Linked DNA regions of Homo sapiens. The protein of the gene in region 4 purifies or fractionates together with the protein of the main gene of each other region. This does not show direct contact. Each region holds a gene or a part of one and is shown on either strand. Other genes may lie near its edges.

Evidence for each region.
Region 1: the proteins of MAP3K14 (region 4) and NFKB2 purify together in Homo sapiens (affinity purification with mass spectrometry; 6 studies listed by BioGRID and IntAct, with this or other methods). This does not show direct contact.
Region 2: the proteins of MAP3K14 (region 4) and CAD purify together in Homo sapiens (affinity purification with mass spectrometry; 3 studies listed by BioGRID and IntAct, with this or other methods). This does not show direct contact.
Region 3: the proteins of MAP3K14 (region 4) and RPL14 purify together in Homo sapiens (affinity purification with mass spectrometry; 2 studies listed by BioGRID and IntAct, with this or other methods). This does not show direct contact.

What each region holds. Positions count from the first base shown.
Region 1 is NC_000010.11:102,391,495-102,398,718, reverse strand, and holds the start of NFKB2 (nuclear factor NF-kappa-B p100 subunit), read right to left. Parts: upstream 3,015-7,224; 5' UTR 2,923-3,014; exon of another isoform or gene 2,832-2,922; 5' UTR 2,760-2,831; coding exon 2,739-2,759; intron 2,467-2,738; coding exon 2,385-2,466; intron 2,271-2,384; coding exon 2,230-2,270; intron 1,995-2,229; coding exon 1,896-1,994; intron 1,816-1,895; coding exon 1,664-1,815; intron 1,418-1,663; coding exon 1,311-1,417; intron 1,193-1,310; coding exon 1,034-1,192; intron 739-1,033; coding exon 634-738; intron 508-633; coding exon 422-507; intron 335-421; coding exon 196-334; intron 1-195. UniProt on the Homo sapiens protein: NF-kappa-B is a pleiotropic transcription factor present in almost all cell types and is the endpoint of a series of signal transduction events that are initiated by a vast array of stimuli related to many biological processes such as inflammation, immunity, differentiation, cell growth, tumorigenesis and apoptosis.
Region 2 is NC_000002.12:27,213,024-27,220,378, reverse strand, and holds the start of CAD (multifunctional protein CAD), read right to left. Parts: upstream 3,011-7,355; 5' UTR 2,828-3,010; coding exon 2,746-2,827; intron 2,503-2,745; coding exon 2,363-2,502; intron 1-2,362. Other genes in the region: ATRAID (all-trans retinoic acid-induced differentiation factor isoform c precursor), read right to left, coding at 3,431-3,535, 3,759-3,856, 4,626-4,747, 4,834-4,905, 4,987-5,058, 7,081-7,202. UniProt on the Homo sapiens protein: Multifunctional protein that encodes the first 3 enzymatic activities of the de novo pyrimidine pathway: carbamoylphosphate synthetase (CPSase; EC 6.3.5.5), aspartate transcarbamylase (ATCase; EC 2.1.3.2) and dihydroorotase (DHOase; EC 3.5.2.3).
Region 3 is NC_000003.12:40,460,331-40,467,352, reverse strand, and holds part of RPL14 (large ribosomal subunit protein eL14), read right to left. Parts: intron 5,947-7,022; coding exon 5,847-5,946; intron 5,746-5,846; coding exon 5,692-5,745; intron 5,415-5,691; coding exon 5,121-5,414; 3' UTR 1-5,120. UniProt on the Homo sapiens protein: Component of the large ribosomal subunit. The ribosome is a large ribonucleoprotein complex responsible for the synthesis of proteins in the cell.
Region 4 is NC_000017.11:45,286,008-45,293,029, reverse strand, and holds part of MAP3K14 (mitogen-activated protein kinase kinase kinase 14), read left to right. Parts: intron 1-2,264; 5' UTR 2,265-2,284; coding exon 2,285-2,540; intron 2,541-3,724; coding exon 3,725-3,794; intron 3,795-5,665; coding exon 5,666-5,876; intron 5,877-5,984; coding exon 5,985-6,599; intron 6,600-7,022.

The DNA.
Region 1 (7,224 bases), on a different chromosome or scaffold from region 4:
GATTGAGCCCAGTTATTGTGTCATGCCTCAGGGGCCCTTCCCAGAAGAGCCCTCAGGGCCGGCTCCTAGGAAGCACCTCCTGGGACCCTCGCACTTCTGACTTGGCTCATGCATCCCCACATCTAGCTCTTGGGACCTTCTTCTAGCCCAGCCTGGCCCCCCGCCAGCACCCTGAGGTCCTCAGCCCAGCTCCACCTTCCACCAGAGGGTAATAGGTGAACTGTTTGGAATCAGACACGTCCCCTCCTCGCTTGCGTTTCAGTTGCAGAAACACTGTTACAGGCCGCTCAATCTTCATCTTGTGATAGGGGGGTGTCCGGAACACAATGGCATACTGGGGGGTGCAGGGAGACACAGGGTGTCAGTGAGTCCTTAGCCTAATTTAGCCCCCAGCCCGGGCCCGGGCCCTAGCCCTGGGTACCTGTTTATGCACATCTGTGGGAGAGAAGTCCCCAAAGGCCTGCCATCCATTCTCATCATCCTCATAGAACCGAACCTCAATGTCATCTACAAGGAAAACGGAAGCTTGGCCACAGCTCCCGGTGGAATCTCTGGGGCCATTTACCCTAGAGCTTCCCTGGCCCCAGTCTTATACTCGATGTCCTTGGTGCCCAAAGTGGGCTCCAGTCTCACCTTTCTGCACCTTGTCACAAAGCAGATAAACTTCATCTCCACCCCGCACAGAGCCTGCTGTCTTGTCCATTCGAGAAATCTTCAGGTTTGATGCCCCCGGAGATTCTATGGAGTGGGATATGGATTAGTTGAGATGATGCAATAGCCAAGGCCACATTTAAGAAGCTGGGGGCTTTGTATTCCTTATCTCAGCAACCCCTGGAGCTGCAGGAAACACCCAATATACACATTTACTAAAGACAGAAGCTTCGGGGGGGAAATGACTTGCTCAGGATCACTCAGCTCATATGTGGCAGGGCCAGGTTCTGAAACCTGGGTCTGTTTGACTGCACAGCTTGAGGTCACCCCTCATGCCACCTCTGCCACCAGGCCTGGCACCCCAGGCAATCAGGATACTCACTGCTGTCATGGATGGGCTGGGAGATGACTGGCTTCAGGGGCAGGGAGAAGGAGCCATCACTGGCTCTAAGGAAGGCAGAGAAGCGCAGCCGCACTATACTCAGATCCATCACCTTCTTCAGTTCTTTGGCCTCTTGCTCCAGCTCCCGCTGCTCGGCCTCTGGGCAGTAGGTACATGTGTGACCCCTGGGCTTCTCCCTCCCTGCTCCTTCCATGAGCACCTCCCATGACCCACCCACCCCCTGCACCCATACCCGACCCACCCCCTGCACCCATACCCGTAAGGCCCTGGGGCCTAGAGCGGAGCCGCTGCCTCTGAAGTTTTTGTATCATAGTCCCCATCATGTTCTTCTTAGTCACATGCAGGACACCCAGGTTGTTAAATCTGAGAAGAGAGAATCGGAGGCCTTTGGCCATGCAGTTCTTTCTTCCTGAGGCACCTTTCCCATTGCCAGGGCTCAGCTCAGCCTTACTTCCTCAAGGAAGCCATTGGAGTTTCTACTTAGGCCCTTGGGTTTGGGGCCAACCTACATCTTTCCCCTTGGTCAGATGCTAAGCTCATGGAGGTGGGCTGGGGCCTGGGACTGGCAGACGGGCATACCAGTGGGGGCCAGGCGTAGAGGGCACCTACTGGGCAGTCATGTCCTTGGGCCCCACAGAAACGGCGCAGATCCCCAGCTCCGAGCATTGCTTGCCCACCAGACTGTGGGCATGAGCACGAGGTGGGTCACTGTGTGTTACCAGGTCCACCTCGATCTTGGCTGGTCCCTCGTAGTTACAGATCTAGGAGAGGCAGGGACTGTCAGTCAGGGCCTTGGGCATGCTGTCCACTTAGCCCACCCTCCAGCACCATCCTGGCTCACCTTGACAGTGGGATAGGTCTTTCGGCCCTTCTCACTGGAGGCACCGGGCAGTCCTCCATGGGAGGGGCCTTCACAGCCATATCGAAATCGGAAGCCTCTCTGAAGGTCCAAGGGCATAGTAGCATTGTGATCAGGGAAGACCACCCAGGCCAGCAGTGACCGCAGTGCCTGGTAGTAGCCCTGAACCAAACTACAGCACTCTGATCAGCAGCAGTGACCATCCAATCCCCTGTGGCCTCCTTCGGCAATGGCTCCTCCATGGCCAGCCAGCTACCACTACCCCATTTGTCCCCAAAGCTGAAGCCATTCCACACCCTCCCTTTTGCTCACTCACCTGCTTAGGCTGTTCCACGATCACCAGGTAGGGGCCATCAGCTGGGGACAGAGAGACCTTGCTGAGCCACGATCTCCCAGCCCCTCCCCCAGAGAGAGGGCACATGCTCTCCCTCCCCCGCTTTAGGACTAGGGGAGGTTAGTGAACTTGCTGACCTGTTTCTGGGGCTGGCTCCTTGGGTTCCACAATGGAGGAGTTCAATTTGAAATCATCATATTCAATAATACCATCCAGACCCTGGTTTGGAGACAGACTGGGGGTGGCATCCGACTCTCAGCACCCCCCACAGCCCCACCTCCCATCTCCAAGTCTTCAGTGGTCACTCCCCCCTCCTCCTCAGACCCAAGAGAAAGCTCCTTTTGGAGGCAGAGTTGCAGACAGATGGACAGACTGGCAGGCTGAGAGCATCTGCGAGCATACAGGTGTAAGGCAGCAGAGGGGGCTCGGGCAGACAGGTGGACAGACACGAGGGGCAGCCGGCCGGGTCAGGGGCAGGCGGCATGACTCACTGGGTTGTAGCAACTCTCCATGTCTCTGGGCTAGGCCCGGCTCTGTCTAGTGGCTCCGGCCAGGTTCTGCTTCCCAGAATTTTAGACGCCCGCCTAAAGTTGGGAGGAGTGGCGTGGGGGAGGGGGTCAGATCTAAATGGGGGTGGGCGGGAGATGGGGGCCCAGATTTGGGGGAGGGTCCGACCTCCTCCAGCCGCCTGTCCGGGTGTGGCGGGTGAGATCCGGTGGAGAGCGAGATCCGGAGTTGGGCTTGGCCGGGGAAGGGGCAGGAAAGTTAGAGCAGCTTAGGAAAGTCCCGAAAATACCAAGGGGAGGCGGGGCCGGAGGGGGCGGGCCTGGAAATGACGCCACTGGCCCCGCCCTCGCGACGGGAGGGGCGGGAGGCCCTCGACAGTCTACGGGCTCCCGCTGCTTTTCAGCGGGCAGAGGTCTAGGAGAATCCGGGAAGCCCCGGTGGGGGTTAAGCCCCCTCCTCCCTCCAGGGCAGGGAACAGGAGGGTCTTTCACGGCCGGGAGGAGGCTGGCAGTCTGGGGCCAAGTCCGCCTCCCGCTCCCCTCCCCCGGTCTGGAGCAACCTTGGGATTTTCTGCCAGGAGGGAGGCCACGGCTGATAAACCCCGGGGGCTTTTGGGGGGACATTCCTGCTGTCGGACGGCCTCCCCTTCGAACAGCCTGTAGGCGGGGGCTCTTTCCTGTGGGAGGCCCCGGGGTTCTGCCCCGAGAACGCGATTCTGGGGCTGCGGGAAAAGTGTCTCCTCCTCGGAGTGGGCTCTTTTCTCTCTCTCCCAAACCTCACAACAGCAGCTGGTCCCACACCGCACCGGTTCTGGGCGCGCAGGCGACAGGGAGATCTCTGCACGCTCCCCCCCCCCCCCCCCCACCTAATACAAGAGTGTGTCTCCATCACAGCTCCACAAGTGTGTTTCGGCTGTAGTGCTTGGTTGCATGTTGTGTGTCCATGGCGTCAACATGAGTGTGCAAGCGAGCATGTGTGTAGATAGGTGAATCCCGAGCTTCTCAGTGTGGGTGTGTGTCAGCGCCTGTCTTGATGTACGGACACGGGTGAGCGTATCTTGAGTTTGTGCGTGAAGGGTGTGGGTGCAGGCACCAGTGCACCGGTGGGCACGTCTCCGTGTGCATGTGTGTGCGAGTGCGACTGCACGGACGCTGCCGTGTGTGCGCCAGCACAGGTACAGGTGTACGTACGGGTCCGCGTATCTTTGTACAACGGTGTCGACGTGGATCCGAGTGTCGTCGCCTGCGCGCCCTTTCCGGCTGTGTGCAGCTGCTGCTCTCCAGCCCCAGGCGCTGTCCGCTAAAGGCCCTCCTCCCTCTTTTCTCTTGTCCCGGCCACCCAGGGGTCTGAATCCAGCCACTCACCGTGGCGGCGGCTCTGGTTGCGGCTTCTCTCCGCGCCCGACCCACCTGGGACCGGTCGCGACACCTCGCCTGCCAGCAGGGCTCAGGGCCGGGAAAGCCCCTTCTCGGCCCCCCGGAGGGGGGAATTCCCATGACGTTTCCGTGCGTCACGCCTCGCGCCCTTTTTCATTGGCTGAAAGTTTAACTCTGGACTGGCGCAGCCAACCCGGAGCGACTCGGGCGCGCCCCTGAGAGGGGACAGGCTCACTCAGGGCGGGGAGCGGGGTGACAGGACACCAGGCGCGAGTTCGGCCGGCCAGGGGACCGCCGAGAAGGTACCCGCTGACCCAGCGCCACCCCGGGCCGGGAGCTTCCGCTGCCTCTCGGCTTTGGCTGCGCCTAACGCTTGGCTTTCTCTGAAGCGGGGGATCCCCAGGGGGAAGCCGACGGCCCCAGCCCTCGGGGCCCCCACCCTGAGCGGCGCGCTGCCGGGAAGTTAGCGGAAGAGGAAGGAAGTTATTCTTGCGGTCGGTCCCGGGCGCCCTCTGGCGGCCTCCCTGGGCCCGCGAGTAGACTCCATTCGGCCCCGGCCCCTCTCTCGCTCCGTCTCATCAGCCTCAAGGCTCCGGGAGAGACAGTCCGGACCTCGAACTTTTTTAGAAGTGACAGGTTCCCAGCGGGCCAGGGCTCAGGAGCTCTGCTCAGGAGAAGGGAAATGAAGTGTTTATCCACCAAGGAGATCTGGAATATTAGAACTGAAAAAGGCATCCAGAGTTTAAACAGCTCAAATTTCCACCGATGTGGGAAATCGCCTCTTTTTTTTAGTCTCAGGCTGGAATGCAGTGAGGGGATTTTGGCTCACTGCAACCTCTGCCTCCCGGGTTCAAACCATTCTCCTGCTGCAGCCTACCGAGTAGCTGGGATTACAGGCGGCCACCACCACGCCCGCCTAATTTATGTATTTTTAGTAGAGTTGGGGGTTTCACCACGTTGGTCAGGCTGGTCCCGAACTCCTGACCTCAGGTGATCCGCTGGCCTCCGCCTTCTAAAATGTTGGAATTACAGTCGTGAGCCACTGCGCACGGCCTATTTATTTATTTATTTATTTATTTATGTTTTTGAGACAGTGTCTTGCTCTGTCACCCAGGCTGGAGTACAGTGGCGTGATCATGGCTCACTGCAACCTCGAACTCCGGGGTGCGCCGATTCTCTGACTCTCCTGAGTAGCTGGGGCTACAGGTGCACACCACCATACCTGGCAAATTTTAAAATTTTTAGTGGAGATGGATCTCACTGCGTTGCCTAGGCTGGTCTTAAACTCCTGGGCTTAAGTGATCCTCCTACTTTGGCCTTCCAAAATGCTTGGATTTTGGATTACAGACGTGAGCCACTGTATGCTGCCGAATTGCCTCTTATAGACCTTCCAATTTCCACCTGAACACTTCTAGAGGCAGCGAGGTCAGGACAGAAATTCACCAAGCACGGAGTACATGACTGGACCTCTCTCTGGTCAGTAGCGTTTCTCCTTAGCAGGTGCCATGAGTAATCTCCCTGCCTGGAGTCCTCCTCCCTTAGGCTTATGGTAGAACATAAACTATCTCGGGTCTTTCCTGCAGCTTGCCCCAGACGTTTTTAAGAACAGAATCACAGGCCTGCACTGGCACTAAGTAAAGAGAGACTATTATGGCTCTCGATTTGGGCTGTTTCCTATTACTTCCCCACCCCTCTTCATCTTGCCTGCAAATATAGTGTCCTAGTTGCTAGGTTCGGGTACTTTAGAAGTTCTTATTCTCCCTCCCAACAACCCTAGGAGGTGAATATTACTTTTACTGATGAAGAAATTAAGGCTCAGAGAGGTGGAGTAACAACCAAACACACAGCTAGAAAGGGACAGAGCCAGGATTCAAACCCAATCTGTTGACTCCAGGATGAAGCTTTCTCCCCTAAGTTTATATAAAACAAAGCAGCCCTTTCCACCTTACTGTGGGCCTCTCAAACAAATATCATAAGATTCTGCCAAACAATTTGCTGAAATCCAGATATGTTGTCTACTACGTTTCTCTGGTAAGTCAGATTCCTAACCTTAAATTAAAATGGACTAAGGCCGGGCATGGTGACTCACACCTGTAATTTCAGCACTTCAGGAAGCCAAGGCTGGTGGATCACTTGAGCCCAGGAGTTCGAGACCAGCCTTGGCAACATGGTGAAACCCCGTCTCAAAAAATTGAAGGGGTGGGTTGCCCCTCCACACCTGTGGGTGTTTCTCGTGAGGTGGAATGAGAGACTTGGAAAAGAAAAAGACACAGAGACAAAGTATAGAGAAAGGACTCGAGGAACCAGCATTCAGCATATGGAGGATCCCGCCAGCCTCTGAGTTCCCTTAGTATTTATTGATCATTCATGGGTGTTTCTCTGAGAGGGGGATGTGTCATGGTCACAAGACAATAGTGGGGAGAGGGTCAGCAGACAAACAAAGGTCTTTGCATCATAGACAAGGTAAAGGATTAAGTGCTGTGCTTTTAGATATGTATACACATAAACATCTCAATGCTTTACAAAGCAGTATTGCTGCCTGCATGTCCCACCTCCAGCCCTAAGGCGGTTTTTCCCTATCTCAGTAGATGGAACGTACAATCGGGTTTTATACCGAGACATTCCATTGCCCAGGGACGGGCAGGAGACAGATGCCTTCCTCTTGTCTCAACTGCAAGAGGCATTCCTTCCTCTTATACTAATCCTCCTCAGCACAGACCCTTTACGGGTGTCGGGCTGGGGGACGGTCAGGTCTTTCCCTTCCCACGAGGCCATATTTCAGACTATCACATGGGGAGAAACCTTGGACAATACCTGGCTTTCCTAGACAGAGGTCCCTGCGGCCTTCCGCAGTGTTTGTGTCCCTGGGTACTTGAGATTAGGGAGTGGTGATGACTCTTAACGAGCATGCTGCCTTCAAGCATCTGTTTAACAAAGCACACCTTGCACAACCCTTAATCCATTTAACCCTGAGTTTGACACAGCACATGTTTCAGAGAGCACGGGGTTGGGGGTAAGGTCATAGATTAACAGAATCTCAAGGCAGAAGAATTTTTCTTAGTACAGAACAAAATGGAGTCTCCTATGTCTACTT
Region 2 (7,355 bases), on a different chromosome or scaffold from region 4:
ACCGCGCCCCGCCTCTTTCTTCCTTTATCTAAAACTGAAATCACAAATCCTTTCTCTGTGAAGCCCCTCCCACTCACCCAATACAGCTTGTGCCTCCATCTTAGAGCTGTTTTAATACTTTATTTCCTCTCTTGCTATTTACGTCATATGATGAATATGTATTTGTGTCTTTGTCACGAAACAGAGAACTCAAGAGCAAGGCACATGGTGTCAGTCAGACATTTATTGAGGTGCAGGCATTGCAAAAGATGCTGAGAAAAGAGCAATGAGCAAAAAAAGATGAGGTTCCTGTCTTCATGATGTTTATTTCTGACTTAGGGAGCTAGAAAACAAGGTAACACCCATATAAATATTAATTATAGAGTGTGATTAAAAACTGAGTAAGATAGGGAGGTACAAAATACCCCATTACCAAATAAAAAACAAAGGTTCAGGGCACAATACTAAGCATGCCTCCCAAACTTCATTTGGGATTATTTAAAAAAGAAAAGGCCAGGCGCGGTGGCTCACGCCTGTAATCCCAGCGCTTTGGGAGGCCGAGGTGGGCAGATCACCTGTGATCGGGAGTTCAAAACCAGCCTGACCAACATGGAGAAACCCTGTCTCTACTAAAAATACAAAATTAGCTGGGAATGGTAGCCCATGCCTGTAATCCCAGCTACTCGGGAGGCTGAGGTGGGAGAATAGCTTGAACCCGGGAGGCGGAGGTTGCAGTGAGCCAAGGTTGCCCATTGCACTCCAACCTGAGCAACAAGAAAGAAACTCTACCTCAAAGCAAAATAAAAATAAAAAAAAATTAAATAAAAAAAGATAACATACAAGCCTGGGCAATGTGACAATACCCGGTCTCTACAAAAAATACAAAAAAAGTAGCCAGGCATGGCGGCAGGTGCCTGTAGTCCCAGCTACTTGGGGGGTTGAGGTGGGAGGACTACTTGAGCTCAGGTGGCAGAGGCTGCAAGTGAGCCATGATTATGCCACTGCACTCCAGCCTGGGTGACAAAGTGAGACCTTGTCCCCAAAAAAAAAACAAAAACCATAAACTTGTTACTCAATAGATAAGCGTTTAATAGCTACATAGAAACAGAAAGTTTATGTGGGAGGGATCAGCATATTTAAACTGCATTCAGCTGGGTGATGAACAGTTTAAGGAACCTGCATTCTGAGACTGTCCAGGGATCTGAAGGATAGTTTGGCAGAACCCTCCCTGGCCAGGTGGAGTAATCCATTTATATGTGCGAGTGGCTCCAAGAGGCCTTTCCCACCCTGATCCTAATCAGGCCTCAATTTTGTAGTTTTATAAACTCAATTTAGTCAGTGTGTCTAGAGTTGACAAAGGTGATGACTGACAAAGGTTAACCAAATTCACAAGAATTCACTATCAACTAGAATGCAGTGTATTTGTAGGTTTGTGATGAACCTAGAAATTCTTTTCCAGGAAGAACAACATGTACGTCCTTTATCCGGAGCTCACTCTCCCCAGCGTCAGGGTGGCTGGGAAGGCAAATTAAGAATTAAAGGCTTACACCTGCAGTGAGGCCAAACAAATTTTGAGAGATACTACTCTAGGCCAGATTGACTTCCTCTATTACCTTAATTACTATATGTTGGGTTTTTTTTAATGCTTGAACTGTCAGAGGGCAACTTAGTTTCCAAATTTCAGAGGTGAAGGAATAGGGGAAACCTCACTGTAGGAAGAAACTCAGTTTTCTCACCTAGAGGTAAGAACACAACTGAAAAGCAGAGAATCAGACGAGGCCATGTCAGTAGGTCTAGAAGATAATGTCACTGGTTTTGTAGGTAAACTGGCACTCACTGTCACAGAGAAGTATGTGACCCTAGTTTCCAGTCTCTTTCCACTAATTTATGTAGTCCTAAAAAGCACTGCTCCCATCTGACTCTGCTGCTAAAAAAAAACCTTCAATGGATCCTTTACCAAACTAAGCTGACTCTGCTTTGGCTTCAGGTCCCTCCATGCCCACCGGATTTAACTTATCTGCAGGCTTTTTTCTCCTGACTTCTGCATGCCTAACAAGTTGGACAAGGCTGTTCCCTTACACCTCTTTTACTTTTCCTTGATCCATGCCTTCACTACATACAGAATGCTTTCAGCTATACCTGGAGCCTTGATGCCCTTAACAAAGGCGGTAGCTTTTTCCTGAGGCCTCCAACACTCTGTGCCTCCCAAGGCACTTAACAACCCCTAACTACAGTTACTAGTGATCTTAGTCCTTGACTTTACTACTTCAGTGGGTATGTTTTCTGCAGGATGCCCAGCAGGGTGTCAACGTCTCCTACTTCACTAATAGTTAACAATTACTGACTTGAAAAGGAATGTAGAGAAAGCACTGGGTGTGGCTACCTTGCAGAGACCGAACTCATCCATTTCATCTGGGGGGATGCCATAGTTGCCGATCAGAGGATAGGTGAGCACTAAGATCTGTGCCTTGTAGGAGGGATCAGTGAGGGCCTCGGGGTAGCCGACCATGCCGGTTTGAAACACTGCAAGAAAGAAGCAGGGCTGGGCTCCGGTAGGGCACCCTTCGGAACACTCCCCGCGCGATGAGCACGCCCCAGTGGAGGCTGCCTTGGTCGCGAGGGGTTTATGGCGCTGGGGCCCATGGGCACCGAATGGGGGAAGGGGGTACGCTGGCGGGAAAATGGCGGGGTCTGGACGGGGAAGGTTGGGAGGAGAGGCGCATCACAGAGTGGGATAAGGTCTGCAGCCTAACCGGGCTTGCTTACCCACTTCCCCGGCAGTCGACACGGCGGCCCCAAAGGGCTGGCCCCGCAGGACCGACCCGTCCTCCAACACTAGGGCCGCCATGGGAAGGGAGCTCAGAGGCGGGGGCGAGTACGGAGAAGCGGGAAGGACTGCAAACTCCACTGGAACCACGTGAGGACGGCGCGCCGGAGTCGGTCCACGTGGCTAACGGCGCGGGGCGCTGGAGAGAAGCCGGGCGCGGCAGCGTAGGAGCCTCGGGCGCGCTTGGCGGCAGCAGCAGAGACTGCGGCGGCGCGGACACAGGCGGCGTGAGGGGCGGGGCCGGGCACGTAAGGGGCGGGGTCCGCGGAGCCACGGGGAGTGGGCCCCCGTGGTCTCCGCACTGCAAAACCGGGGGAAACCTGAAAAAACCGGCTGCCCTAAAGCAGTCCCTCCCACCCCAAGCAAGAAACACGTAAAGGCAGGGCGCCTTTCCTTAAAAAGAAAGAGAGGAAAAAAAAAGAAAAAAGTGTTTATTATAGGCAACAACACCAATGGGAACTGGTATTTGTCTACACCAAGGGAGTGCAATTTTTCATCTTCCAATGGCGGCCTCAACCTTGAGGCGAATCCACTGGCGAAAGATGCCTTTCTAGGAAGCAGAGCTCCCTGACTGGGCTAAGATAGTTCAGATTGATCTTAGGTCAATGGTAAGACCTATGTAGTTCATGAAGTCTTGGCTTTTCGGCGCTGGGTCGCCCAAAGCAGAATGGAGACGGATAGAGTGGTGGCTCCCAGAATCCCGAAGAACATAAGCAGTGAGAACGAGCCCTGTGAACAACAGACCAAAAAACACCCCCATACAACGTTACACGGAGGGCCACATCCTAACACCTAGTTCTTTCCTAATATACCTATCACTTTGTCTAGGGCAATTCTATAGTTTTCCACCTATAGGAAATTTGTATCAGCTCCTGGTCTTGTGGCTCTCCTTTCTGAGAAGACTTGCTCTATGCATTCCTTGTATCCCTAGTTAGACGGCCTAATTCCTCACCTGGCGCATACACTTGTATCCATGGAAACCATCAGCACAAACACACTGCAAAAGACCTGGACCATCAGGTACACAAGATCCATTCTCAGGACACATTTCTGGAGGCCAGAGAGAAATAGAGAACATCACTTTATCCATTTCATTAGGCATATTTCTCAATTATCTGTTTCAACTTAGATTCTCTCAATCATTGCTAGGATAAAGGAAGAAGAAAGAAAATTACAGATAAAAACAGTAACAATAATGTCAGGCCTCTGAGCCCAAGCTAAGCTATCATATCCCCTGTGACCTGCACGTATACATCCAGATGGTCTGAAGCAACTGAAGATCCACAAAAGAAATGAAAATAGCCTTAACTGATGACATTCCACCATTGTGATTTGTTTCTGCCCCACCCTAACTGATCAATATACTTTGTAATCTCCCTTACCCTTAAGAAGTTTCCTTGTAATCTCTCCCACGCTTAAGAAGGTTCTTTGTAATTCTCCCCACCCTTGAGAATGTACTTTGTAAGATCCATCCCCTGCCCGCAAAACAGCACTCCTAACTCCACTGCCTACCCCAAAACCTGTAAGAACTAATGATAATCCCACCACCCTTTGCTGACTCTCTTTTTGGACTCAGCCCACCTGCACCCAGGTGAAATAAACAGCCTTGTTGCTCACACAAAGCCTGTTTGGTGGTCTCTTTACACGGACACACGTGAGACAAATAATAGAGTATATCTTAAGATCTTTTCTTTCAAAGGGGTTATAGCCCCAGAACTCTGAATGAAAGGCGCTTAAGCAACTTTGTCTTTCTGATCTAAAGTGGAAAATACAAGGGAGAAAAGACAATTCCCAGAAGTTTGGAGGTAAGACAGCATACCTGGGTCCCCAGTGTTATTGCAAAGGTTCTTTTGCCCTTGACAGATTTGGTTGTCTATATAAGAGGTGATAGTATTCCAGGCATTAATTCCTCCAGGACAGTTGACATGTTGTGGCAGTATCCTATAGAGAAATGTGGTCATAACATGCAAAGTTGCTAAACTCACAGCATCATCCCTCTTTGATTCTCTTCCCATACCCTTACTCACAGAGTCTGGAGCTGAGTAAAGCCACGGAAGGTGTTGGCCAAGTCACCTTTGAGGGGGTTTGCTTGCAGGTCTCTGCAAAGTACACAATGTTAGCACTTTCGCATCAACCTACATTATATTAGCCTTTTGGGTGGGAGGTACCTAACTACTTACATGATGACAGTGGTATGTGCCTGATGAAAGTTTGGACCAGGGTCCTCCAGAGAACAGTTCTGGAGATCCAGCCTGAGGAAATAAAGTAATCAATATAACTGTGTGTTCCTCTTTTTCTTCAGCCACGGCACAGTTTGTATTTGACTACACAACCCCCTTTTCAGCTAATAATTGAACACAGCTGTGTTCAGAGTCACACACTAGGAGCTGTGGTAGACATTTTAATTCTGCATTATCCAATAGAATCGCCACTTGCCACATGTAACTACTTAAATTTAAATTAATGTACCTTAGGCTGGGTGTAGTGACTCACTCCTGTAATCCCAGCACTTTAGGAGGCCAAGCGGGGGAGGATCACTTGAACCTAGGAATTCAAGACCAGCCTGGGCAATATGAATGAGACCCTGACTCTATAGAAGAAAATTAATTTAACCTAAAAATTCAGTGTCTCATTTGCACTAGCCGTATTTCAAGTGCAAATGGAATAACCACGTTAGTAGCTACTGTACTGGTTAGTACAGATACGGAACATTTTCCTTTTTTGAGACAGTCTTACTCTGTTGCCCAAGCTGGAGTGCAGTGGCACGATCTCGGCTCACTGCAACCTCCATCTCCCGGGTTCAAGCAATTCTCCTGCCTCAGCCTCCTGAGTAGCTGAGATTATAGGCACATGCCACCACGCCTGGCTAATTTTTGTATTTTTAGTAGAGACGGGGTTTCACCATGTTGGTCAGGCTGGTCTTGAACTCCTGACCTCGTGATCCGCCCATCTGGGCCTCCCAAAGTGCTGGGATTACAGGCATGAGCCACCGCGCCTGGCTCGGAACATTTTCATAATCACAGAAAGTTCTATCCGCCAGCACTGTTCTAATCGGTTATGCATCTATTGGGAGAAATCTGTGTTTCTTGTCTACATTAGTGAATCTCATATTATGATTTTCAGATCCACAGAGGGCCTTTAAATTAAAAAAAAAAAGTCACATAAATCAAAGTTTTTTTCCACATGTATTTTCTACCACAGATTGGTTGTAAACTGCTGGACATTAAGGATCATGCCACGTTATTTTTTTCTTCAATATCTACTGCTATCCATTCCTTTATTCTACAAATATTTACTGAGTCCCTACAAACTGCAAACACTGGGAGAATGTTAAAAATATGTAACACAGTATTTTGGCCTTTGAGTGGCTTACAATGTAGTTAGAGGAACAAGAGCACTGCCCAAAAATAAAAGCACTGTAAACATTAAATTACAATATAAAAGAAACCACAGGACAGTGTATAAATATATTTGAGTGGACACTAAAGATTACAGGAAGTTTTTAAAAAAGGTATTACTGAATCGCTTGAACCCAGGAGGTGGAGGGCGCGGTGAGCCGAGATCATGCCATTGCATTCCAGCCTGGGCAACAAGAGTGAAACTCCGTCTCAAAAAAATAAATAAATAATAATTTAAAAAAGGTATTACTCTGGAACTTAGTAGTAGTAAATATTCACAAAAGATGTTGGAATTGAAGGATGGATATTTCCTAATTTGGTAGAGGAAGGCAATTTCAGGTATGGAGAGAGGCCTGAACAAAGGTGGAATGCCTTTGAGGGCAGGCAAATCTGGCTGGTGCAGACCATTATGGAGGTTTGAGCGGACAAGTAATTGGAAATAATGTTGGAAAAGTGGGTTGGGACTAGTATGGTACTTAATGGTTTGAATTTTGTCCTGAGACAAAATTTAATACTAAATATAGTATTAAAGCAAGAGAGTGATAATGGAAAATGTTGGTTTTCTAAAAGCTTAATACAGAGAAGTATTTAGGTAGATGAAGGAAAGAAGAGAATGGAAGCAAAACATAACATTTTGAGTTTGAAGTTAGGGTGCACTCAGTAGGAAATGCTTAATAGGAAGCTAGAGGTACCCGTATGTACCTGGAGTGTGGAAAGGTTAAAAAAGACACTAAAGAGATCTAGTTTTGGTAGACATCTGCGTGATGATTACAGCTGAAACCATAATAGGTGGATTCTTTAAATAATATAAGGGTATAAAAGCAGCCAGGCTAAGGAATGGCCTGTATCCAGCATCTAGGGATGTCTTCCCCTCACCCCAAGATGGTGCCCTTCTGATTCAGGCAGCAACGGGCATGCAGCATTAGCTCTCGTGTCGTTTTACAATAAAAGGCCACTTTTGACAAATTTTGCACGCTCCCTGGACATTGGGTGCATATCTGCAGAAGAGAAAGAAACATTAGAACTCCAGAAAGAAAAGCCAAGAAAAGAACAAACGGCGATCAAGAATTAACTGCCAGTACACGTTTCCAGAATTCCTCTAACACGGGGCCGATAAATGGATAAACGGCTCGTGTCCCACCCTTGTAACA
Region 3 (7,022 bases), on a different chromosome or scaffold from region 4:
CCAGTTTGAATTATCCCAATCAGCTTTCCTGGTTCTCCAGCTTGCAGATGGTATTTTGTGGGACTTCTTGGTTTCCACAATCTCTTGAGTCCATTCATCCATCCCATTGGTTTTCTGAAGAACTCTAATTTAGAGGCTGACTAGATAAGATCTCCAGAACGTATTAAGAAAAAAGGCAAGTTGCAGAGTATGAAATTTGCTTAAAACAAGCACATATATTTTTATGTACCTATATTACAAACACATTAAAAAATGTCTGCAAGATGTATATGTTTTCCTTTACACAGGGTACTGGAATTGGAAGTGGAGATAATGAAAGGACCCTTTACTTTCAACTGTAATATTTTATTTAAATGTAAATGTATTCATGATTTAGCCTAGATTAAAAAAAAAAATCAGCTAGCTAGAAGAATGAGGTAACTTTTAATTTTAGTACTAAAGGATAAACAGTATTTCACCCAACAGATGAGGGGGGAAAATATGAATTAGAGGACATGCCAATTACTTAGAGATAAGAGGAAGTCAAGACTTTCTGAAAACCAAACTTCCAAATTTTGCCTATACCGCCAGGTTAGTTCAACACAATTCAACCCAAATTACTAAGTACCTAATGTGTAAAAAGAATTGCACTAGGTGTTGAGGATAGATCCTGTCCTCACTTTCACAAGCATCTTATTTGACTCATTTGATCCTTGCCACAATATGAGGCAGGTATCAGGATCCTTGCTTTTTAGATGAGGTTCCCATAAGTAACATAAAGTAATGAGTTTGGGCTGAATGACAGAATTTAAACCTGAATATGACTCTGAAATCAGCCATTTTTTTTTTTTTTTTTTTGATTTTTAGTAGAGACAGGGTTTCACCACATTGGCCAGGCTGGTCTTGAACCCCTGATTCACCTGCCTCAGCCTCCCAAAGTGCTGGGATTAAAGGCATGAGCCACCGTGCCCAGCCTGAAATCAGCATTCTTTTCGTATGCCATCCCCCGTCTCCAATGAGGGTGACTGAACAAGTGTGTAGTTCTCCATAATCAAAGTAGACTTTTATGCACCTGGATATTTCAATAATTTTCTGCTCTCCTTCCCCATCCCCCAACCCAATCCACACTATGCTACCAGACTGACCTTCCTGAAGATTACGCCCTTGCTCAAGTCTTTTTTTTGAGACAGAGTCTCCCTCTGTCGCCCAAGCTGGAGTGCTATGGCGTAATGTCAGCTCACTGCAACCTCCACCTCCTGGGTTCAAGCGATTCTCCCGCCTCAGCCTCCCAAGTAGCTGGGATTACAGGCATGCTCCACCATGCCTGTCTAATTTTTGTATTTTTAGTAAAGACGGGGTTTCACCATGTTGGCCAAGCTGGTCTCGGACCCCTGACCTCAGGTGATCCGCCTGCCTCAGCCTCCCATAGTGCTGGGATTACAGGTGTGAGCCACAGTGCCCGGCCTCAAATCTCTTATCATATGGTCCCACCTTATTAATTTTATTTTCTACTCCTTTTCAGGCATCGTATGCCTCAGTTACTTTCCTAGAGATTCCAAGATTGGAATTTCCAATTTCCACTGTTCTGTATTGCACTGTTTTCTAGGTGCAGCTTGAATACTGCTTCTACCCTGAAGCTTTCTCATCCTCTGAGCACCTCATGGACTGTAGCCAAAGGGCTCTCAAAGCCACAGGCAGTCTGACAAAAGTGCTCTCCCCTTTCCTCCATAAGGAATTACAACCTGTATGTCTGCAAATCTACACTGCCTCATCCCTCCTTCTCAGTGTATGACCTTGCCTTGCTAACTCCAGAGAAATTTCAGAGATAAAGGTGAAAAGTCCTTAATTTCCTAACAGCAAACCTACAGATTTAGTATCTAAACCCACCTTTTCTTCCTTTTCCTCACGTAAAGGACATCTTTCCTCTAAAGCCAATCCTTCCTCCTCTCCCCTAGGATCCATCCCTTCCTGTTTTTCGAAGGGCTAAGTTTCTCTCCTATTAGCTCCTTTCCCAGAAGCATTTGAACATGCCCATCACTCCAGATTTACAAACACAAAACCTCCGAACCCCATATAACATTTCTCCTTTGCTTACTACCCTCTTCCCCTCACTTTGACGATCTCAAGCAAAATTCTTTCCCTAGCTTCCATGTGCCCCTGCTAGTTTCCCACCCCTCATGACTCCTTTCCAACCTCTATTCGTCTCTTGATTGTTGTCATCCTACCCCTGGGGAATCAGTGACCACTTACATATTCATGAATCCCAAGTCTGTCCTGAAACCTCTCCTCCTTGTGTCATTATCACAGCTCTTACCAAGGGAACCAGTCACTGGACTACATATCATGATTAACTACTCTGAAGCGTACCACATAGATGAGGAAACTGGATTTTGACTATGTGCCTAAACTACATAGCTTTCAAGAGGCAGAGCCAGGATTTTAGTATAGATTGTCTGCAGTCTTTGCATATACACCCAGATAGTCTACATGAAAACTAACTCATTTTACCTAGATAAACTTTACCCTGCCTCATGTTCCCTCACAACCAATGAACCAGAGGTACAAACCAGAAACCCTGACACATTGTTTTCTCCCTTATTTCTGCAGTCCAATGCATGATCAAGACCACCTAAATGGCATTACCACTGTCACTTCCTTGGATTACTGCCAAACTTCATACTGCCAACCCGAGCATTCCCAGTCTTGATCCCATAAGATTCAGTCTTAACAGTTCAATGATCTAAATCTGAGATATCACGCCATTTTAAAAAACCCTCAGTAGCTTCCCGTGTTCCCCTACACGATCTAACCACTAACCTACTTCCTTGATGTGGTCCCGAGCCAGTCCTCTACACTATCAGTTCGTTTATTTCCTATCTCGTGTCATTCTTCCCCTTACACCACCTTCTTCTTATTTTAGGTATAGATGCCACTTTCTCTAGACAATTCTCTACCTCCCAGAGTAGAACAGGTAATCCGAAATCATCCATATTTTCCTTATTACACCATACCACTTGCCTATTATCAAGCAAATCAATGTGCTTTTTCCTTTACCCCAGTGACGCCTGAAGCTAGCTTTTGGTTAGGAAACAAATTTATTTAAAATGTATTCCTGGCCAGAAGCGGTGGCTCACGCCTGTAATCCCAGCACTTTGGGAGGCCAAGGCGGACAGATCACCTGAGGTCAGGAGTTCAAGACCAGTCTGGCTGACATGGCAAAACCCCATCTCTAATACAATATTAGAGGGGCATGGTGGTACACGCATTTAACCCCTGCTACTTGGGAGGCTGAGGCAGAACAACTTGAACCTGGGAGGTGGAGGTCGCAGTGAGCTGAGATCGTGCCACTACATTCCAGCCTGGGCAAGAGTAAGGCTCTGTCTCAAAAAAAAAAAAAAAAGTAATCCTGTTTCATGTACAGCTTTGTAGTATTTTTAAATCTATCCAGGATCTTTTACTGCCCCAAATTACCTGTATCTTGTGGTAGAGAGAAACAGAAGTCCAACCTACTATACACAGGATAAGTATCTCTTATCTGAAACACTTAGGACGAGATGTGTTCTGATGTTGGAGTTAAGTGCATATACATGACACTTTGGGGATGGGACCTAGGTCTATACAGGAAATTCATTTATGCTTCATATACATGTACCCTGAAGGTTAACTATTTCTTCCTCAGGGACACTGAATAGTGCTGTGTACCTGTATTTTGACCATAACCCACCATGCGGGTAGGCTAGGGATTTTTAAATTGTAGTGTCATAGCTCAGTTTCAGAGGTTAGAGCTTTTTGGATTAGAAATATGCTCAACCTGCAATTTTTATACTTGCCCTATTTTCCTAGTTTACTTTTTATAAGAAAATTTGCAGGCCGGGCACAGTGGCTCACACCTGTAATTCCAGCACTTTGGGAGGCCAAGGCGGGTGTATCACCTGAGGTCAGGAGCTCGAGACCAGCATGGCCAACATGGTGAAACCCCATCTCCACTAAAAATACAAAAACTAGCCAGACGTGGTGGCACACACCTATAGTCCCAACTACTCAGAAGGCTGAGCAGGAGAACCGCTTGAGCCCAGGAGGCAGAGGTTGCGCTGAGCCAAGATCGTGCCACTGCACTCCAGCCTGGGTGATAAGATCAAGACTCTGTCTCAAAAAAACAAAAAAAGGCCAAGTGCAGTGGCCCATGCCTATAATCCCCCGCTCTGGGAGGCCGAGACAGGCGGATCACGAGGTCAGGAGTTCAAAACCAGCCTGGCCAACATAGTGAAACCCAGTCTCTACAAAAAAAATTAGCTGGGCATGGTGGTGGGCGCCTGTAGTCCCAGCTACCTGGGAAGCCAAGGCAGGAGAATCACTTGAACCCGGAAGGTGGAGGGAGCTGAGATCGCACCACTGCACTCCAGCCTGGGCAACACAGCAAGACTCTGTCTCCAAAAAAAAAAAATAAATAAATAAAATAAATCTGCTAGACTCTTGAGCATCAAGAGGCTGTCACTTTACCTATTTATGGCAAACATATTTGTACAAGGAAAAAAGATGTTCTGAAGCCAAGGTGACCATAAGAAAAAAATGTCACTTGTGTCACTTGGTGTTCTAAGTTATCATGATTTCTCATGACATGATCAATTATGACTGCAATGATTTTGCACTACCTATCCAAGTATGGGCAGAGAGTGAGATTAAAGAACTGATTATTTAGGCCAGGCGCGGCGGCTCATGCCTGCAATCCTAGCACTTTGGGAGGCCGAGGCGGGCGGATCACGAGGTCAGGAGAGCGAGACCATCCTGGCTAACACGGTGAAACCCCGTCTCTACTAAAAATACAAAAAATTAGCCAGGCGCGGTGGCGGGCACCTGTAGTCCCAGCTGCTCAGGAGGCTGAGGCAGGAGAATGGCATGAACCCGGGAGGTGGAACTTACAGTGAGCCGAGATAGCGCCACTGCAGTCCGGCCTGAGCAACAGAACGAGACTCCATCTCAAAAAAAAAAAAAAAAAAAAAGGAACTGATTATTTAATGTTTATTATAATCCTACTATCAATCTGCCTCCTAACTCCAGCCTCAACAGGCTTTAAATCCAAAGGCTTAAATACATTTGTCAACAGGTCAAAAAGAACCTTTATTACTTTTTATGATTGCCACTTATGCTTTCTTGCCAGATGCCTTTGGAGCAGGTGCTTTCTGGGCTGGAGCTTTTTGACCCTTCTGAGCTTTTGGAGCAGGCGCTGCTTTCTGGCCTGTGGCTTTCTGGGCAGGAACCTTCTGGGCTGGAGCCTTTTTACTCGCGGCGGTGATCTTTTTTGCTGGAACTTTAGCAGCAGCAGCAGCAGCAGCAGCAGCAGCAGTACCCTTAGTACCAGGTGCTTTTTTGGGAGAAGCTTTCAGGAGAGCTGCCTTTTGAAGCTTCTTAACTTCATTCTTGATTATTCTGTTCCTCTGAAAATTATCAATGTAAGAAAGCACTTATTGTGTATACATACAATAAAATCCAATTTATGCTGGTTTTAGAAAGGGCATTAAGTAGTCTGTTTCCCTACAACTACATCTGAAGAAAGGTAACAATTCCATAGGGACATCATGAAATACAAATGAAGATAAATTCTCCTTTTTTACAGAAAGCTTCCAAGAAGCTGGCAGCCTGAAATGGGATTTGGCTACTGCTCCCTTATTATTTAAAGCTAAGTTACACAAAAATACAGATCTTAAATCTTACCATTTTCTTTGCCTTCATAACTTTAAAACGATCAAAATCTGTCATCTTGGCTTTCTGTTAAAAAAAAAACAACAAATAAAAATTATCCCTCTCACACTATCTTGAACCCTCCAAAAAAAGAAAGGACCAGAATTCAAATGACCCTAAGTTATTACCCTTTCTCTGGCTTCAATCTTCTTGGCCCATCGTGTGGCTGCCCATTTTGTATTGATGTCTGCCTTCTGCCAGGCTTGTCGGACATACTTCTGGTGGGCACTAGAACGAGCCAAGACCACAGATTAAGAAATCAGCTTTGAAGTCACTCATTATCAAAGACACTTTCTTTGTTCCTTGAAAAGCACTCTTCCTGTTACACAACACCTGGTACACTATGTATTTTACTTATTTTTGTGTTCAGTAAGCCAGAATAGGTTATTAACTTCAAGCATATTTTAATCAAAACTGTAATCCAGTCCCTTTTTTTTTTTGAGAGAGGATCTTGCTTGCCACCCAGGCTGGAATGCAATAGTATGATCATGGCTCACTGTAGCCTCAACCTTCTAGGCTCAAGCCATCCTCCTGCCTCAGCCTCCCAAGTAGCTGGGACTACAGGTGCATACCAGCACACCCAGCTAATTTTTATATTTTTTGTAGAGACAGGGTCTTGCTACGTTGCCCAGGCTGGTCTCCAACTCCTGGGCTCAAGCAACCCTCCACCTTGGCCTCCTGAAGTGCTGGGATTACAGGTATGAGCCACTGCACCCAGCCCAGCCCATTTTATGAATTTAAAAACTACCTCTTGACCAGGCGCAGTGGCTCACACCTGTAATCCCAGCACTTTGGGAGGTCAAGATGGGTGGATCACCTGAGGTCAGGAGTTCAAGACCAGGTTGGCCAACATAGTGAAACCCCATCTCTACTAAAAACACAAAAATTAGCTGGGCGTGGTTGCAGGTGCCTATAATCCCAGCTACTTGGGAGCCTGAGGTTGCAGTGAGTCAAGATTGCGTCACTGCACTCTAGCCTGGGTGACAAAGTGAGACTCCGTGTCAAAAGAAAAAAAAAACCCTCAAAAAAAACACAAAAAACCCACCTCTGACTATATATAATTCCACTCGGGCAGTGGACGTGTTGAAAACCATTCTTTTTTTTTTTCTTTTTTTGAGACAGGGTCTTGCTCTGTAACCCAGGATGGAGAATGCACTGGCGCAACGTTGGCTCACTGTGACCTCTGCTTCCTAGGTTCTAGCAATTCTTCTGTTCCATCCACCCAAATAGCTGGGGCTACAGGAGTACACTACCACACTGGGCTAATTTTTGGACTTTTAGTGGAGACGGGGTTGGCTAGGCTG
Region 4 (7,022 bases):
GGAGCCTGTTGACCAGGGAGGACCTTAGTGTGCCCTCCTGCATTTGCCTGTAACCCAGGAGCTTGGGGAGTGGGCATCATAGCCTAAAGAACCTAGGGTCTGGATCCTGGCCATGTCCTGTCACACGTGGGTTGGGTGACCTTGGGCAAGTCTCCACTGAATTAGGCCTCAGCTTCTTCAAATAGAAATGAGGAGGTCACGCTCACATCGAGCTCCCTGTGAGCATTCCCTACTGCTGTTAGGTTTGGAGACTTTTTGGTCTGTTCTTAAGATCTCATTTCCCCTGGTAAAGAGGCTGAGAACAGTGGGATCGGCTCTGGGCTTAGGTCAGTTTCTTTTTTGGAGGTAGAGTGGGGTGGGGAGGTGTGAGGTGGGATGAAAGTACAGTTACAAGAAGCATAGCCAGCCTTGAAGGGCTTTTGCCTAATTGGATGTCAGAACACCCCTTAGACTTTTTTTTTCTTTTAGAGACAGGGTCTTATTCTGTCACTCAGGCTGGAGAATGCAATGGTGCAATCTCAGCTCACTGCAGCCTCAACCTCCTGGGCTCAAGCATTCCTCCCACCGCAGCCTCTAGAGTAGCTGGGACTACAGGCCAGCTACCCCAGCTAATTTTTTGTATTTTTTTGTAGAGACAGGGTTCCACCATGTTGCCCAGGCTGATCTTGAACTCCTGGGCTCAAGTAATCCTTCTGCCTCAGCCTCCCAAAGTGGTGGGATTACAGGCATGGGCCACCATGTCCGGCCCCCTCAGACTTCTTAAGATCCTCAGGTAACAGTGAGGCCACCCATTCAGCCTCCTCAGCATCTGGCGTTTGGTACCAAATCCAGGCATCCTTGCAGGAAGCTGGAGCTGCTCCAAGTTCAGAGCTAGGAGACCCTTAAAGACAGAGATGCAAGGAACTAATCAATAGTGAACAACAAACCCCACCACACCCGCCAGCCAAGCTGGCAGAGCCTTTCATAGCCATCGAGGTGGGAAGACCAGTGAGGCAGATTCAGAAGGAGGAATGCTTCAACCTAGTACCTCAGCTTCCCACCATCTCATTCAGTCCTCAGGCCTCACAGGGCAAAAGGCCAGAGGCCTTAGAGTTCAGCTTCAGATGGTGTACCTGTCTGCCCCAGAAGCAGAGAAGTGATCCAGGGTTCACAGAGTTATAGCAAGGAAGATGATTTCTGCTGGTAGCAGCTTTAAGACAAACCTACCATCAGAGAGCAGTTATTAAAAATCTGTCTGCATTTGGGACCTTCTCAGGCTGTTTCTAAAGCAAGTCATGCCTGAGAGGGGCCCTGCCCTTTAAAAACTCCCAGCCTTTAAAAAGGTTTCCAAATGGTAACAGTCTCAAATCAGTGCTCTTCTCTTTTTTGCCAATTCCAGTCTGCAGGCTGTTTGCACAGATTGTTGGCAACTCTGGGTTGCTCTTCTTTGCAGCTTCCTAGGGCTGGGCAAGACAGAACCCAGAGAGACGTGAATTCTTATGCTTTATTCTTTATTTCTAGAGGTATAGGTTCGTGTTAGGGCCTTGAATATAAATTCTACTCCTGATGTTGCCTGAATGAAAAATGATACCTAGAAGTTTTCAGCCAATGAGTTTGGACATTAGAGGAGGAAGCATGTTAGTTCCTTCTGGAGAGCCACAAACAGACGCATTGGGCAAGGAACCACGTGCTGAGCACCATTTGCATGCTGAGTTTTAGACTTTGTAGGACACACACACACACACACACACACAGATATCTACCTCCTACTAGGGAACAGAATAGAACCTTGCTTCTCTCCACTTGGAGAAAAGTCGCTGTGGATGGTGTGTGCCAACAGGTCCTCTCCAAAGGCTTATGTGGGGTCAGTGAGGCCATGGTTTTGGAGTCTGGGATTCACCACCCTGTCCTGGGGAAACAAAGTTTGCCATAAAACAACAGAAAAAGATCGAGCCATCATAAAGGCAAGAAAGAGCCAACCCAGACATTTGTGCCACAGCTCTCCTAGAGGGAGTGGGCTGGCATCCTTGCTGGACACAGTGAAGGAGGCTGTTTATGTTGTGGTACTGGGAGGACCGGGGGACTGTGCCGTGTGGAACGTGTAGCTGTTGAGAGGTGGACTCTGTTACCATTGAGGATGTTTGGAGGATGAGTATGTGTGGCAGAGGCACACATAAACAGGCAGAGACCCTTTGCCCCTGCCTTTCTCCCCCAACCCAAGGCTGACCTGTGTTCTCCCAGGTCTGGGATTCTAAGTGACCTGCTCTGTGTTTGGTCTCTCTCAGGATGAGCACAAGCCTGGGAGATGGCAGTGATGGAAATGGCCTGCCCAGGTGCCCCTGGCTCAGCAGTGGGGCAGCAGAAGGAACTCCCCAAAGCCAAGGAGAAGACGCCGCCACTGGGGAAGAAACAGAGCTCCGTCTACAAGCTTGAGGCCGTGGAGAAGAGCCCTGTGTTCTGCGGAAAGTGGGAGATCCTGAATGACGTGATTACCAAGGGCACAGCCAAGGAAGGCTCCGAGGCAGGGCCAGCTGCCATCTCTATCATCGCCCAGGCTGAGTGTAGGGGCCTAGGGTTGTTGTGGGCACGGGGCAGGTGGGTGGGCCTGCAGGTGGGTAGCTGGGCCCAGGGGTTCCCTATGGAGGAGAGAGGTCTGTGTCACTGCTAGATAAGATTCTCATGAGACACAACCAGAGGTCTGTGCCGAGAATCATGGAAAGTGGGGTTGTAAAAGTGCACAGATGGTGGATGTGGCAAGGGGAGACTGTGCCCATCGTGACTGGAGCAGGGGAAGAGAGGTAACAGACGAGCACTCGGGACTCTGCAGAATCATCAAGCAGGCCATCAACCTTCTGCTGTGACCTTGAGCAGCCCCAGTGTCTGGAGAGGCTCCAGACAGGAAAGGCCAGGTCTCCTGGAAAGCCCCACTGGGGCCTGTAGGGCCTTCACCATCTTCCACCTAGAGGTGGCCCCACCCCCAGGAATGAGCACCGTGCTCTTGAGCCTGCTGGGCCAGTCCTGGGGCGGCAGGCTGCTGCAGGGTGAGACCTAGTCTGGTCCTTTCTTCTTCTACTCATGATACCTTATGATGACTAGTAATGGTGGCTTCCCTTGGAGACAGAAACTCCCACGAGGCCTGGGTAGGGCCGGGAGTCCTCTCTCTCCAACGCCTTCCCTCAACCCGGGAGGCTTCTTGGGGTGGAACCTGGAGAGCTGGACAGCCATGCTGTCATTTCTCCACACGCATACATCCTGCCCTCGTCTCCCACTTCCTCCTGGTTGGTTTTTGAGGAGAGATGAGAGAATAAAAACTAAAATACAGAGAGTGACATAATAATTGTTTTAAAAAAATACACATATATCCACACTTATATGTACACACATATATAAATACCTAATAGCTGTTTTTCCTATGAGCCAGGCACTGTGTTGAGCATTTTCTGTAGATCATCTCACTTCAGCTTCATAGGAAGTGAGGCGGGCGCCCTGTGATCCCCATAATATAGGCTTGGCTATTTCAGAGCAGGTGGCTGAGGCCGTGGTCTGCTCTTGACCAGTAAGCTGAGAAGCTGGGGAGAGACAGTGCGGGAAGGAGGCATTGGTGGGGAGGTGACTGCCAGACAGGGGTTGTCTGGAAAGGAGGGGAAGGAGAGGCGCCAGAGGGGATCTCTGTAAAATGTCTCTCCCCTAAGTGCTAAATTCCTATTTTTTCTCCTCTCTGCTAATCCAACTCCTTTTGCTTTAGGTGAGAATAGCCAAGAGTTCAGCCCCACCTTTTCAGAACGCATTTTCATCGCTGGGTCCAAACAGTACAGGTAAGCAGGGGAGACAAGCCTGAGTGGGAAGGTGGGGACTGGACCCAGCGCCCTCGTCCCCAGCACTTGCCTGGGCCGCTCCTGCTGACCCCGGGCTCCCTCCCTCAGCACCTGTGGTTCAGCTCCTGGAACTCACCCAGGCTTTCCTGGCTGAGCCGCTCTCTCAGCCAAATAAGCTTTTCAAAGGCTTTTCACAGCTTGTGGCTGACTGCCTCTGGGCCACATCAACTTGACATTTTATTTTTATTCTCCTCAGAGTCCTTAATGCACCCCCTCGTTTCCCATCAACAGGGAGGGTGCTGGGAACAGAAGCTGCTTCCCACTCTTGCGTGACCGTGAGCGCAGGCCGGGTTGGTGGGGGGGGCCTTCCACTGTCCTCTATGGGAGAAACCTGCTGGTGCCTTTTCTCCTGGGAGATGCACCGAGTAGGGATGCGGGCGGTAGAAAAGGAGGGGACAGATAGACTTGGTGGCCCGGTAGAAAGGAAGCCAGGGTGGGGCTGAGTCTGTTCCCAGGCTCTGCATTCCCCCACAGATGATTTTTTGAAACAAGAGTTCAAGTGCTGGGCACAATGGCTCTCACCTATAATCCCAGCACTTTCTGAGGCCGAGGCAGGTGGATCACGAGGTCAGGAGATCGAGACCATCCTGGCCAACATGGTGAAACCCCGTCTCTGCTAAAAATACAAAAATTCCCTGGGCATGGTAGCGCATGCCTGTAACCTCAGCTACTCAGGAGGCTGAGGCAGGAGAATCGCTTGAATCCAGGAGTCGAAGGTTGCAGTGAGCCGAGATTGTGCCACTGCACTCCAGCCTGGTGACAGAGTAAGATTCTGTCTCAAAAAAAAAAAAAAAAACAAGAGTTCAAGCTAGAAACAGCTCCTTCCCCTATCACCAGGCAGGTTTTGTATCATTGGAGTTTGGAACCTGCTAGTGATAAGATTGTGGGGAGGGCAGCTGGCTGCCTTGGAACCAAGAAATGCTCAGTTTGGTGGGATTCCTTCTGCTGTCCTGGGTGCCTTTTGGCCCAGGGTAGGAGCCTCTGATAGACACACTTCTTTCAGCTGTCCAAGAGAAGCCTGTAGGCCTCCAGTGGTCCCCAGGACTGCCATGAGTCTGCCTTCTCCATGGGGGCAGAAGATGAGGCCAAGGGAGGGTGGCTGAGGCCATGATCTGCTCCACAGCTGTTCTGCAGCAACCCATCTGTTGCCGGGTCCTTTAATACTTGGCAGGGATCCCAGTCCAGTTAGAGCCATGGCAGTGATGAGCCCCGAGGCCAGCAGAGAAGGGCAGGCTCCCCAGTACCAGGCAGCAGCCCAGGCTGTTCACCTTCAACAGCAGCCAGGGACCCCCAGGAACTGTGAGAATGGAGGTGACCAGCCTTACCTGTTCCTCCATCCGGAGGCAACAGAAACAAGCTCTGCTCAGTCAGAGCTGAGAGGCCTGCCATGAGCGTGGCCCCCTCCTAGGAACTCTCCAGGGGCAGCTCACCTTGGAGAGCAGTGAGCGAACCGTGTCTGCTCCCCTGACTCTCCCCAAGAAGTGCTGAGTCTGTACCCCATCACCATAGTAACAAGCACAGCTTCTCGGCAGCTTGCCTTGGGGCCAGACACTGAGCTGGGCTTTTTAAATGAACTAAATTATTGAAACTTCATTTCCACCCTGTATGGCAGAAAATACCAAACCCATTTTATAAGTGAGATAAGTGAGAAAACAGGTTCCTTGGGATTTAGAAACCTTGCCGCATTCACACAAGGAATGGCAACCTGGGATTTGACCTTGGATCTGCAGGAGTCCAGATACAAGTGTCTGGACCAGTCCATCTTCCTGCTTCCTCGTGCTCAATATGCAAATCTGTCCCTTTTGTGACAGCCAGTCCGAGAGTCTTGATCAGATCCCCAACAATGTGGCCCATGCTACAGAGGGCAAAATGGCCCGTGTGTGTTGGAAGGGAAAGCGTCGCAGCAAAGCCCGGAAGAAACGGAAGAAGAAGAGCTCAAAGTCCCTGGCTCATGCAGGAGTGGCCTTGGCCAAACCCCTCCCCAGGACCCCTGAGCAGGAGAGCTGCACCATCCCAGTGCAGGTGAGACCCTCCACCCACTGCCCAGACCCCAGGTTCATGGGGCCTTGAAATTGGAGCCTGTCCCTGGGCCCTGGCCCTCTGTGCTGATAGCTGTGTTTCCCCCCGCAGGAGGATGAGTCTCCACTCGGCGCCCCATATGTTAGAAACACCCCGCAGTTCACCAAGCCTCTGAAGGAACCAGGCCTTGGGCAACTCTGTTTTAAGCAGCTTGGCGAGGGCCTACGGCCGGCTCTGCCTCGATCAGAACTCCACAAACTGATCAGCCCCTTGCAATGTCTGAACCACGTGTGGAAACTGCACCACCCCCAGGACGGAGGCCCCCTGCCCCTGCCCACGCACCCCTTCCCCTATAGCAGACTGCCTCATCCCTTCCCATTCCACCCTCTCCAGCCCTGGAAACCTCACCCTCTGGAGTCCTTCCTGGGCAAACTGGCCTGTGTAGACAGCCAGAAACCCTTGCCTGACCCACACCTGAGCAAACTGGCCTGTGTAGACAGTCCAAAGCCCCTGCCTGGCCCACACCTGGAGCCCAGCTGCCTGTCTCGTGGTGCCCATGAGAAGTTTTCTGTGGAGGAATACCTAGTGCATGCTCTGCAAGGCAGCGTGAGCTCAGGCCAGGCCCACAGCCTGACCAGCCTGGCCAAGACCTGGGCAGCAAGGGGCTCCAGATCCCGGGAGCCCAGCCCCAAAACTGAGGACAACGAGGGTGTCCTGCTCACTGAGGTAACTAATCCCCCGGCACCTGTATATGTCCCTCTACCAGCAACCTGGGGGATGCTTTTCTCTCTTTATCAGAGTCACTCTTGCCTGTGGTGACAAATCAAACAGTAGGACAGTGCTCATTGTGGATGAAAAGTATCATCTCTTATTCCGCCAATCTCACTTCTCACAGCCTTTTTAGCGTCTTCTGTTCTGAGTTCTTCTGGTTGGTCACCTCCTGCTTGCTGAATGTGGGCACTGCATTAATAGTACACATGCTGAGGACAAGGGGAATCAGCCAGGAGCCACTGGAGATGTTATCATGGCCCCCAGAGACGGAAGATGAGGATGGGACCTGTTTTCACCACCCACCTCCTTCCCTTTTTCCTCTTGTTAACTTCCCAAATAATTTTATAACTTTAAATGATTTTATCAAACTTTGATTTC